Regions from separate parts of the Homo sapiens genome. Here region 1 is linked to region 2. Evidence: fine-mapped expression QTL. A gene starts in region 2. The other region holds a variant in brackets. All regions are shown on one strand. Distances are between the middles of the regions.

Region 1 (5,375 bases), 28 kb after region 2:
CTGAAAATTTCCCCTGCCTTCAAAGACCCTTGATTGCAAGCATCAGAGAGTTCAGGTCTTAAGCATGAGCTACCCACTTCTCCTTGCTTGGCACCCTGCAATAAATGCCTCACTTTCCCCCTCTCTGCAATCTTGATGTCAGTGTTTGGCTTTGCTGTGTTGGGCGGGTGGACCCCAAATTTGTTTCAGTAACAGACCTGGAAGTGCAGGAGAAAGAGAGTCAGAATGCCGTAGGCTAACAAGTGAGTGGGAGGTGATGAAGAAAGAGAGAGCAAAGATAACTTTTCAATAAATTTCGCTAAGATGGTAAGGCCAAAGAGAGAGGATGATGAAAGGAGAGGTAAGTTGGAAGATTACTTTAAAATGGGAAAGGCTTGATCATGCTTGCATGTTGAGGGAAAGGAGTCAGTAGAGAAAGGTAAACATCAGCCTGTATCCTCCAATGCAATGGGATCCCAGCAGGTCCTCTGGGCCACAGGGTCCACAGGAAACTCCAGGCCCAGTCGGCAAAGCAGCCTTCTGGGCTAAAAGGTCACCACCATGCTAAGTCCTCCGCCACCGCCCAGGCCTCAGCTTCTTTCACCCTCCACCAAAGGCTGTCTCAAGTCTTTGTTCTACAAAGGAAGCCCCAGCTGGTAGAAGAGCTGACTTCAGATCAGCTCAAATCTCCCTTCATCTCCAAGGCTTCGGCCTGTGTTTAGCAACGGGGAGCCTTTCTTGGCTCTCTGCTGCCAACAGCCATGAAAGAAAAGGCAGTGTGGCAGCTGTAAGGGTAGCTGGGGTGGAAGCCTCGAGTCTCGGTTCCCATCCCGGCAGAGGGCCGAGTTACCCCAGCAAGATATGGGTCAGGCTGCCACCTAGTGTTCAAGTCAACGTGTAGCAGGAAGGCCTAGCATGCCACTAACTGAGCAGCAAATAGGTGACAGAGGGATAACCGAAAGCCTGCAAAGAAGCCAGAATTCAGAGAGGAGCGCACCGTCCTGAACCAGAGAGAGAATGTGTTTCAGGTGGTGAAGACAGACAGCGAAGCTACTGATCAGCCGGTGGCAGAGGCCAACAAAACAACCTGCACACAGGGCTACAGTTACAAGGCATTTTTACCTGTATTTTCTCTCATGCCATCCTTTGGGTTAATTATTATGGTTTTCCCGATTTTACAGACGTGTCTTCTCCCTGGAAAGTTCAAAAGACTTGTTCAAGTCAGTAGCCTGTTAGATGGCAGAGCTGGGATTTGAAAAGGGATCTTCATACTTTGGGAGGTGGGGGTGGGGTGGGAGCACTGAGTTTCACATCAGGAGGAAGGGGAACAGCTGAAGGCAGAGTAGCCATGACGAGTGGGGCTCTGGGCAGAGCTAAACGATAGGGACCTGTGCCCAGCGGACCTTAAGTTACAGGGTTAGGCTGGGAGCTGAGAAACAACCACCACTGCCCAGATGTGTGCAGTGCCTGCTGGGCCTTGAGCAGAGTTTGCCAGTGAGACAAGCTCTAGAAAGTCCTGCACAAGAGCCAGGACAGGCACTGGCACCAGATCTTAGGGGGTCTGGGGAGGAAAGTCCACAAGGATGACTGCCAAGATGGCCAGTGACAGGCCCAGTGGCCTGCTGACCAGAGGCTAAAACGGGGAACGGAAACCAGAGAAATGCACCAGTGAGGGCTCCTGAGAGCAGGTTAAGACCAGGGGAATCCAGCCCTGGCACCTCCTGGTAGGAGTACAGGGAGGCAGGAGGAGAGAAAAATCCAGTCAGCTCTCCTGCTGGCAGACACTGGCTTGGAAGGGAGACCAAGGACTGACTGGGGATGCTGCCAGTGGGGAATGGGTAGGTAGAACTGACTTCTGTTCAGAGCCCCCAGGTGAGAAACAGCAAATGTGTTTTCTTTTCACCTCCCCAGACTGTGCCAGTAAATGTGTGGGGGCAGCACCTGGGGGCCAGGCAAAGGATCTCTGCAGAGATGGGTGCTGGGTCCTGGGTCCACATGTCAGCCAAGACAGTTGGTCTTCAGATGGTTTAGGATAAGGACTCTGTGCTTGGTACAGTTTTCTACCTCAGCCCCTTCCTGGTGGCTCTCTTTTGTTTTGCTTTTCTTTTGGTTTTCCAAATAAAGTTTCCTTTGAAAAAAATCACCCCCACTCCTGTTTTTTTTTCTGAACACAAAGGCAG[A/T]ATCATTTGTTCCCACGCAGTGCAAGATAACGAACCATACAGAAAATCCCGAAGGGCCCAGGCTTAGAGTTTGAGTTGGATGAGAGGTGAGCTGGGGCAGGGAGAGAAAGCAACTAAAGAAGGCTGGCCACGTGCGGCCTGGGCTGCTGGCAACGTCACTCCCTTGGCCCTCAGAGACCTCTGCAGTCCCACACCCTCTTCCCGCTCAGTGCACTGGCGACCCCTTTCTTTTCCCTGCATACTCAGGATCTCCTTGCTTTTCCACTCAGACTACCTTAAAATTTTTCTTAAAAAAAAAATCTTGCTATACTAGTAAGAGAGGCCCAGCATGGGAAAGTCAGGAAAGAATATAATGAAGATAACATCAATCACATTACTTTTGAATTAATTAAAAATAAACAACCTAATCTCATCTTTGATGACTAGTAGGTTCCTCCCACTTCCTTTCCCAGCCACTAAAGGGTCACTGGTGCTAGGGTGCCTCCCATACAGTGGGGGCTCAGCCCATGCTCGCTGGGTGGCCGATTGTTGACTGGTGCTCTGTGAGCTCCAAGTTTCCTGTAAACATTAGAAAATACAGCATGGGTTTTGGGTGGCAGCTACTCTGGGGCATACTGGCTGGGGAACTGGCAGAATTCCACAGGCTGGTTTTTCTCAAGTTAACTGGTGGCTTCCTGCCATGACAACAAGCTCAGCCCTGTGGGAAGTGGGTTTGGATGGTGCTTCTGGATCACCTCAGCGTGAGTCAATCCTGGGAGGGGTTGGTCTGTCAGCAGTCAGATGTTGGGTACCTACTGTGTACCAGGCACTGGGGATGCAAAGATGGAGGTCCCTGGAGACAGGCTCCACAAACTAACTGGAATTTAATCTGGACTTAGATACAAAACACTGGGAGGGCAAAAAGGGAGGCGTCTGTGAGTGGATCAGTCTCCAGGAAGGCTTCATAGAAGAGGTGACCTGAGAGGTGGGCCTTGAAAAGTGAGTAGGGTATAGTAGTAGGTTGTGGGGCCTCAGGGGTAGGTGAGGTGAGAAGAATCTATTCTAGGAAAAATGAATAAAAACAGCGATCTGGAGTTATGATGGTTTAAAGTGTATCCTGGAAACAATCAGCAGGACCTTCTGTGGCTCACATTTTCAAATCTGTGCCACACTGTGCAAGAGAGTGGCTGCTGTCCCAGAGACCCCATGTAAGCTGCCAGCTGCCCCTGAGCTGCGGTGGGCCCTCTCCTTGCTCCTCCATGTGTCTCTTGAGTTTATCTAGCAGGGAACAGGCATGTCTGTGTGTGCTGTCCAGGCCCAGTTCCAATGCCCCTTCCTTGAAGCCTTTGGGATTCTCTCTAGACACATGTGGGTGCTTTCATCACACCCTGTCCTTGTTGCTGTTATGGCCCTGTCCACACTGATGGTAACTGTTTTCTTCACTAGGTCTGCGTGTTCCTCACAGGCAGGAAATGTGCTTGGTCTGTCCCAGCATCTAGATTCTCAGCATCTGGTACTGGATCTCACGTAGAGCATACAATTAAGTGTTTGTTAATTCTTAAATTTGCTCTAGGGACACATCCCCATCTCTCTGCAGATGCAGGCTCAGTTTTCCCATCTACACCCATTTTAGGGATGAAAGGAGGACTCTAAACAGTGATGGTCTGATGGAAGATAAGAACATCCAGGGTAGATTGTCCTCATCAACCCCAATTAGAACTTGATTGAGAAGGTCACAATCCAGTCTTCTGTAATGACAGCCCATTATTTAATTGACTGAAGCAGGTTTTGTCTGGCAGCTTGACAAGTCATACTGCACGGCCTCTCCCACTCCACCTACAGGGCTAATATGTGACAGATTTAGGTGGTAAATGCTTGAAATGCCTTGAAGATTCTGCTCCAGCCAGCAACCTTGCTGTGACAAGGGCGGGCCCTGATGACAAATAGTGGCCTGATTACTGGACTCATTGTTCCCAAAATGGGCCTTGGGAGGCTGCCCAGTGGCTGAAACAGCTGCTGAACTGCCCACCATGGACTGGGAGAAGATGAGAAGCACGTCTCCTGGGTTCACGTCCTGTTGCTTCACTGACCCCATTTAGTAACCTTGACCTTGGCTTTTCAGATGAGTAGCCAAATGAAGATGAGAAACATTTTAAAAAATCTCTAATTCTTATAAGGGAGTTTTGTGGTGATGACCTTTCAAGGAAGGATGGCTGAATGAATGGATAAACAGAGGGATGGATTTGGTGGATGGACAGGCAGTGAAGCATCAAATGATGGACATATGGATGGTAGAATAAATGGATGAATGGATAGAAAGCCAACCTGTGCTGGCTTGTGTCCTAGAGACATAAAGTGTGCCCTCCGAGGACAGTGCGGGTGGGTGCTGCTGGGGGATTCTACTGCAGTAGTGCGTTTGTTTTTAATTTCTGAGAGCAATTTTTGAAGGGTTGCTATGTGTAGTTGAAAAGCTATGTGCAAAGCATAACTCTTCCATATATTTTTCAGAAAACAGCAATGAAGTGAATGCAACTGATGCCTCCTCAAAAGTTTGCTACCTGCCAAGACTTTCAAGCATGAAAATATCTTTATTTTTCCCTTTTAAAATTGATGGGTAGGCCATATGGGAGAGAGGGAAATACTGACAAAGAGGGCACCTCAAGAAAAGCATGCCTATAAAAATAATGTGACAAACAATGAAACAACACACAAACAGTTTGACAGATAAGAGAGCAAAGGATCACCACACGCCCGTGATTCTAGAGCAAGTGGTGACTTTAGTGTGTGGCTGTGCTCATGCATATGGACCTTACACAACTGCAATCAGCATCTGCATACCTACACCCAGTAACCTGCTTTCTCTACCTAATATGATATAATGAGCATTTTTCTATATTGCTACATAGTCTTTATAATTACTTTAAATGACTGTATAATATTCCATTCATTATATCACTGCTGAATATTTAGGTTGCTTGTAGTTTTTCCTTTGCTCATTTTTATGAATTAACAAATGTAAAGTATTTCACCCACTACCTTCAAATTATATATACTTGGTCGGCACTTTATTTCCTTCCCGTTCTGCCCCTTTATATAAATAAAGAAAAGTATGAAAGATTCATATATGAGCTTTTCTTTAGGGTAAATGTATTAAGATAAATATTGAGTTCAAGATTTAAATAATTGTATGGCTTTTCACACATACTGATGTCATGTTACTTCTATTAATAACAATGA
Region 2 (5,375 bases):
CCTTTTTTTCTGCCTGCACAGCTGCCATCTGTCCCGGCAGGCCTGGGTTTAGCTGCTGCCTCCTCAAATTCCCCAGGCAAGGCCTCTGCAGGCAAACCAGGTTTCACTCTCCTGCTATGTCCCCTCTCCACCCGGCTCAGCACACCGTACCACAATCACATCGGCAAACTCTTGCTCCAAGAGTCTTTTCAGCTCCCCTCGGGTGAGCGCTGTGCAGTTGCCCTCCGTCCTTGCATAGCGCCTGAAGGCCTCGATGATCCCATTAATGTTTTGCAGTAACTGAGGCATCTTTGAAGTCAACCTGGAAAAGATGAAAAGTTCCCTTGGAGGCTCCATAATCAACCTCAGCTATTTCCTTTATAGCACGTCTGCTGCTAGGTCTTTCCTTGCACGTTCAGCTCTGTTTTTAGTTTTCCTTTGTCCTTTCCTACATAATGCATCTTATGTATGGGAAGGAGGAGCACACAGGATGGAGGCAGGTTCCTGAGTCAGGATTAAATGCTGGCCCCACCACTTAAGTATGGTGTGAGCTGGGACAAGTTGCTTTGCCTCTCCATGCCTCAGTTTACTACTCATTGTAATTGAAGGTGATATTAGTACTCTGTGGGATTATTGTGAAGATTTAAAGACATAATTCATAAAAAGCACTTGGCAGATGCCTGGCTTATATTAAGTGCTCCTTATTAAATATAATTATTATGCTATTATATACATATACACACATATAATTTTTGTACACCTATATAATCACTTTCCTGTACATCATCTCTTCTAATCCTTATTATTTCCACTTTTTTTTATAGGTGAGGAAACAGGCTCAGAGAAGTTAGGCCACACAATTTTTAAGGAGCCAAGAAATCCTAGGATCCATTTTTCCTTAACCCAAATGCAATGGGCTTTCTAGAATGTACCCTGTGGACAGGATTTATTTATTTATCACAAGGGTGTTAGGGTCCCATCGGGAACACCAAAAGGAAGTAAATACATCTGTGAGTCAACCCCTGTCTTGGATGGGAGCCAAGCAGAAATTCCAGGGACACAGCCCTCCCTTCTTGTTTTTTTTGGGAAAGTGGGAAGAAACTGGGCTACCACCTGCTGGGAATGCTCAGGAGGGGGGAACCTTCTTTGGGTGGGAGGCCTTCCAGTTCTGAGGGTCCAAGTTTCTCTGCATGTCGCCTCTGTCCACAGCCCTGAGACTTATCAGAGAAGTCAGCTTGCCCAACAGGCACGTGGCTCCATCAGGCCCAGATTTCTGGTGACCTATGAGTTGGTTCCTAATCAAAGGGAAAGCTTTTCTTTTTCATTAGCCAGAAATCTAGAGGTAGGTTGAGGTGAGGCCTGGGTTTGGTTGCATGAGCAAAAGGAAAAGAGACTTGAAGATTCATTAAGCAGAAGCCTTGGAGAGACCCAAAGGAGGAGATGGTATCAAAGATGACAAGTCTCAAATGCAAGGGGAGATGGAGCCTGTAGCAGCTGGAAAGCCAGAGAGAGGATGGGACGAGGCAGATATAGGTAGGAGAAGAAAGAGAAAAAAGGAAGGAAGGAGACTTGAGTTCTAGAAAAAGCAGATTAGTGTGGCCATGAGGACTCAGTAAGTCATAGCAAAAGGTGGGCTGTTCAGGAGAAACCCTTTCTAGGACCTGGTAACCAACAATTTCAGGCAAACTTTTCATCAAGGTAAAAAACTGGGGATGTTTTCCTCAACATAGATGAAAAATATCTTTCTTTTTTTTTAAAACCATGTAGCAGACTTTAACCACTGACCTTTAGATAATAAAATAATAAGATGACCTTTTAGTTACATTTTAGATTCCTTAGAAAAATCTACACATATTTTGCCTAAATATCACCCTGGTGTAGGAGAGGGGAATCATGTAAACCCCTTCATCCATGACACAGTTTGATCTTATTGTCTAGGTTGGCATAAGTAAACTGATTCTGATCCCATAGACTCTCAGCACTGCAAAGAAGCTTCCAGAGCCTTAGAAAAAAGAAACCTTTGCTGATCCAGGAAGGCACATGGGTGGCCCCATAGCCGCTGCCCACACAGTTTCCCAGTGAGAGGAGCTGCTCCCAGGCCAGCCTCAGGGAGGAGGAGAAAGCCTGATTGCTTCAGGAGAGCATGTTTCCCAACGGTAGCGTTGGTTTGCCCAGTGCTCACAGCTAGCTCTGAAGGATGCATAGTCCATACCTGACTGCCCCAGTTTTATGAGCTCAGATCACCAAGACACTGAGAATGAGAAAGAGGTTTCTTATGAGGGGACTTACCTAATGCCCAGGTGGGATGAAACAAGTGGCTGTTAAGTGGTGTGAGGAGTACCAGGTCAGTGTGATGAGAACCTTTTATAGGGGTTTTAACCAAGGCTCTTGTTTTAGACAGGATATCCTGCCCTATGGGAAGGCTTGATTCATCCAAGATCCAGCCCAGCCCAGCCACACCTCCTCTTGTCTCTGTTTTACCTGCTGATGTGTGACTGCCTTGGTCTAATTAACAGGCCCCTCCTACCACATTTGGTACCTTCTGTAGCTGAGTCCTCTTGACAGGGAAGCTTCTTTCCATTGTGATGGGCTCAGCAGTGCTTGGTACAGGCTGGGGTCCTGGTGAACATTCTTTGTCTCTATGAGCCTACAAAGTTATGGGACTCTTTCCTTTTTTTTTTTTTTTTTTTTTTGAGATGGAGTCCTGCTCTGTCGCCCAGGCTGGAGTGCAGTGGTGCGATCTTGGCTCACTGCAACCTCCGCCTCCTGGGTTCAAGCAATTCCCTGCCTCAGACTCCTGAGTAGCTGGGATTACAGGTGCCTGCCACCATGCCCAGTTAATTTTTGTATTTTTAGTAGAGACAGGGTTTCACCATGTTGAACAGGCTGATCTTGAACTCCTGACCTCATGATTCACCTGCCTCTGCCTCCCAAAGTGCTGGGATTATAGGTGTGAGCCACCGTGCCTGGCCACTGTTTCCTTTTTTAATATAAATGTTCAAGAATATATCTATTGAGGTTAACTTTTACAAAGTAGCCACTCTGAGAGGGCACACATGTTTTTGTGGTGATGTTACTTAGAACTGTTATTACTTAGAACATTTTTTGAATTCTTGTTTTGTAAGTGCCTTTCACACCTAGTGTATGAGACACAAGAAAGCCAGTTTCATCTCTTTAAAGTTGGTCTCATTTTTAATTAAAACAAAAAAAGTTAATACCTTCCCCACCCCATGCTATGGGTAGGTAGCATTTTGTAGCTGATGAGAAAAAAGGCTTACCATGATCATGTGGTAACTCCTCATTGCAAGGACAGGAAACTCAACTGGTGGCTAATCAGCAAATATTTATGGAAAGCTTGCTCCATTTCAGGCAGAGGGCTAAGGCCCTAGGAATACAGTGTTGAATACGATGGCAGCAGTTTCAACTCTCATGAAGTCTATAGCCTGGCCATCCCAGGGGTAAGTCCCCAAGAGGTTAATGATAATGGTATTGCCATTTCATTTCATTTGATTTTATTCCATTTTCATTACCATCTCATCTTATTTGATCTCCCTAGCAATCCTCTGAGGTGGTATGGCTAAGCCCAATTCATAAATGAGAACACTGAGAAATCCTCAGAGAAGTAGCCACTCTGTGAAGCGGAGACGGTGCTGGACTAGAGCCCCTCAGACTCCAGGCCTGTGTTCTCTCTGTTGCACCATGCTGCCATTTATTCTTCTCTCATTGAGTTTTGGCACCTTATGAACATCACACTTATCCTCAATGCATGAAGAACCATTCCTGAGGAGGAAGTTTTCTGAGCTCAGAAGCCAAGTCCCAAAGAGTGCTCTTGAGTGGCACTTTGCAGATAATATATACTGTGTAGCTTCCTGAGTGACTCTGGAAGGGAAAGCCATCTTTACCATCCTCACTTATAGATCAGCATGCAACAGACAGGAAAGGGAACAACAGGATAGGAAGGCATGGTAAGGGCCTTGGTTGAAGAGACTGGTGTATTGAGGGCAGCCCTGTAGCAACAGCACAGCCTCCAGCACTTCCCCTCAGGGCACAGAGCACTGGGGAGTTCCAGACTGCAGGAGGGCAGGATGCAGGCTTTGTGTTTGGAGAGATCTGTCTACATGGGGACAGGTTGGCTCCAGTCCTGGGGTGAAGGTGGGGTAGGCATACCAGCCAGGGAAAAGCAGAGTAGGGGCTTCAACCTTTGGGAGCAAGAGGGGGCTGAGGTTGCTTCTGCCTGATCAGAGTTAGAAGAAGGCCAGTATGAGAGGGTGAAGTTGGAGAACAAGAGGGAGAGCCGATTAGACCTTCTTCTGTGGTGGTGTTTGAAGCTTTTTCTGATGGGGCTTAGAACTTCCAGAAAGGTTTGGGAACTGAGGGTAAGTTAGGGAAGTAACAAGCCAGAGGCTGTATCTAGAAGATGAATATTTGGTAGGTATTATTAACCCAATTTATAGATGAAGAAACCAAGGCACAGAGAGTAAGTAAGTAAACTTAAGTAAACTACCTAAGGTCACATAGCTAGGAAGTTAGACCTGAATTTGAACTTAGGTCTGCCTGCCTCCAAAGCCTAATAGGTCTTTATGTGTGCCTGGGGCAGGACTGAGCTGTGAGGAGCTGGGGCACCATAGAAGTAGAGGTTAAAGAACTGTATGTGTGTGCTGGGCCAGTGGAGGTGGGTTGAAGTGTGCAGGTGGGGCTGGGGGAGATGAGTTGGCAGAGATTGGGACTGAGCCTGTAATTGACTGTGTAAGTTTGTTAGTTTATAAAGTTGGTGAGGAGATGTTATAAGTTAGTGTGCAAGTTGTCAGAATCAAAATGGAGTCACTTGTCTTCAAAAAAATCCTTGACAAATATAGAGCTAAGGAAGGCTGCGAAGAGAGAGTTCTCATGCTTGTACACCTGATAACACAACTATCACAAAAGACTGCAAAAACCACAACCTTACACAAAGGCCATAATAGCCTTACACAACAAACACTTCTGTGAGGACATCAGTCCAGCAGCTGCCTGTCCAACTTCATATTAGCATCACCATTGTTATTGATCTTTGTAGCCAAGAATACACATTTCAATAAAATTATGTAATTTTCATTGTTTTTCCTGTAAGAACTTTTGTTTTCCTTTACCTCCTGAATATGCACGTAGTTTACTATGGCACATGTATTCCCATTGCAATGCCCTATTCTCAAATAGGTAACTTTTTTTTTAAGAGAGATTCACTGTGGTTATTATTTAAGTTGACATTAGTGAGTCTACTTAGCAGTTACATTTTACGGGTATGCTGGAGGGCAGTGAGACCAGGTGCTGGATCAGCAACTCAGCAATGAAAACCCAGTTTTGCACTTTGACTCCTTCTTATACACTTACTCAACAATGTATTGCTGACCTCTACTTGA

Alleles and levels. Positions count from the first base shown, and alleles are read on the strand shown. Sizes are in standard deviations (SD) of each study's normalised expression.
As copies of T replace A in region 1, the expression in unexposed skin of the gene that starts at base 2,318 in region 2 goes down (moderate effect, 0.41 SD a copy in GTEx).

Evidence for each region. PIP is the estimated chance that this variant, and not a neighbour inherited with it, causes the effect. A credible set is the group of variants that fine-mapping cannot tell apart.
Region 1: its variant is the best candidate, but not a certain one, in a credible set for the expression of CRNN in unexposed skin (GTEx, PIP 0.90).

Annotation. Positions count from the first base shown.
Region 1 is chr1:152,440,198-152,445,572 of GRCh38, forward strand. No RefSeq gene overlaps it. Among named protein-coding and RNA genes, the nearest start is that of CRNN, 29 kb to the left of the region's middle. The variant A/T (reference allele first, on the strand shown) is at 2,160.
Region 2 is chr1:152,411,946-152,417,320 of GRCh38, forward strand. It overlaps CRNN (cornulin), which reads right to left and starts at 2,318. Exons shown (of 3, transcript NM_016190.3): 1 at 2,269-2,318; 2 at 151-301. The coding sequence starts at 288.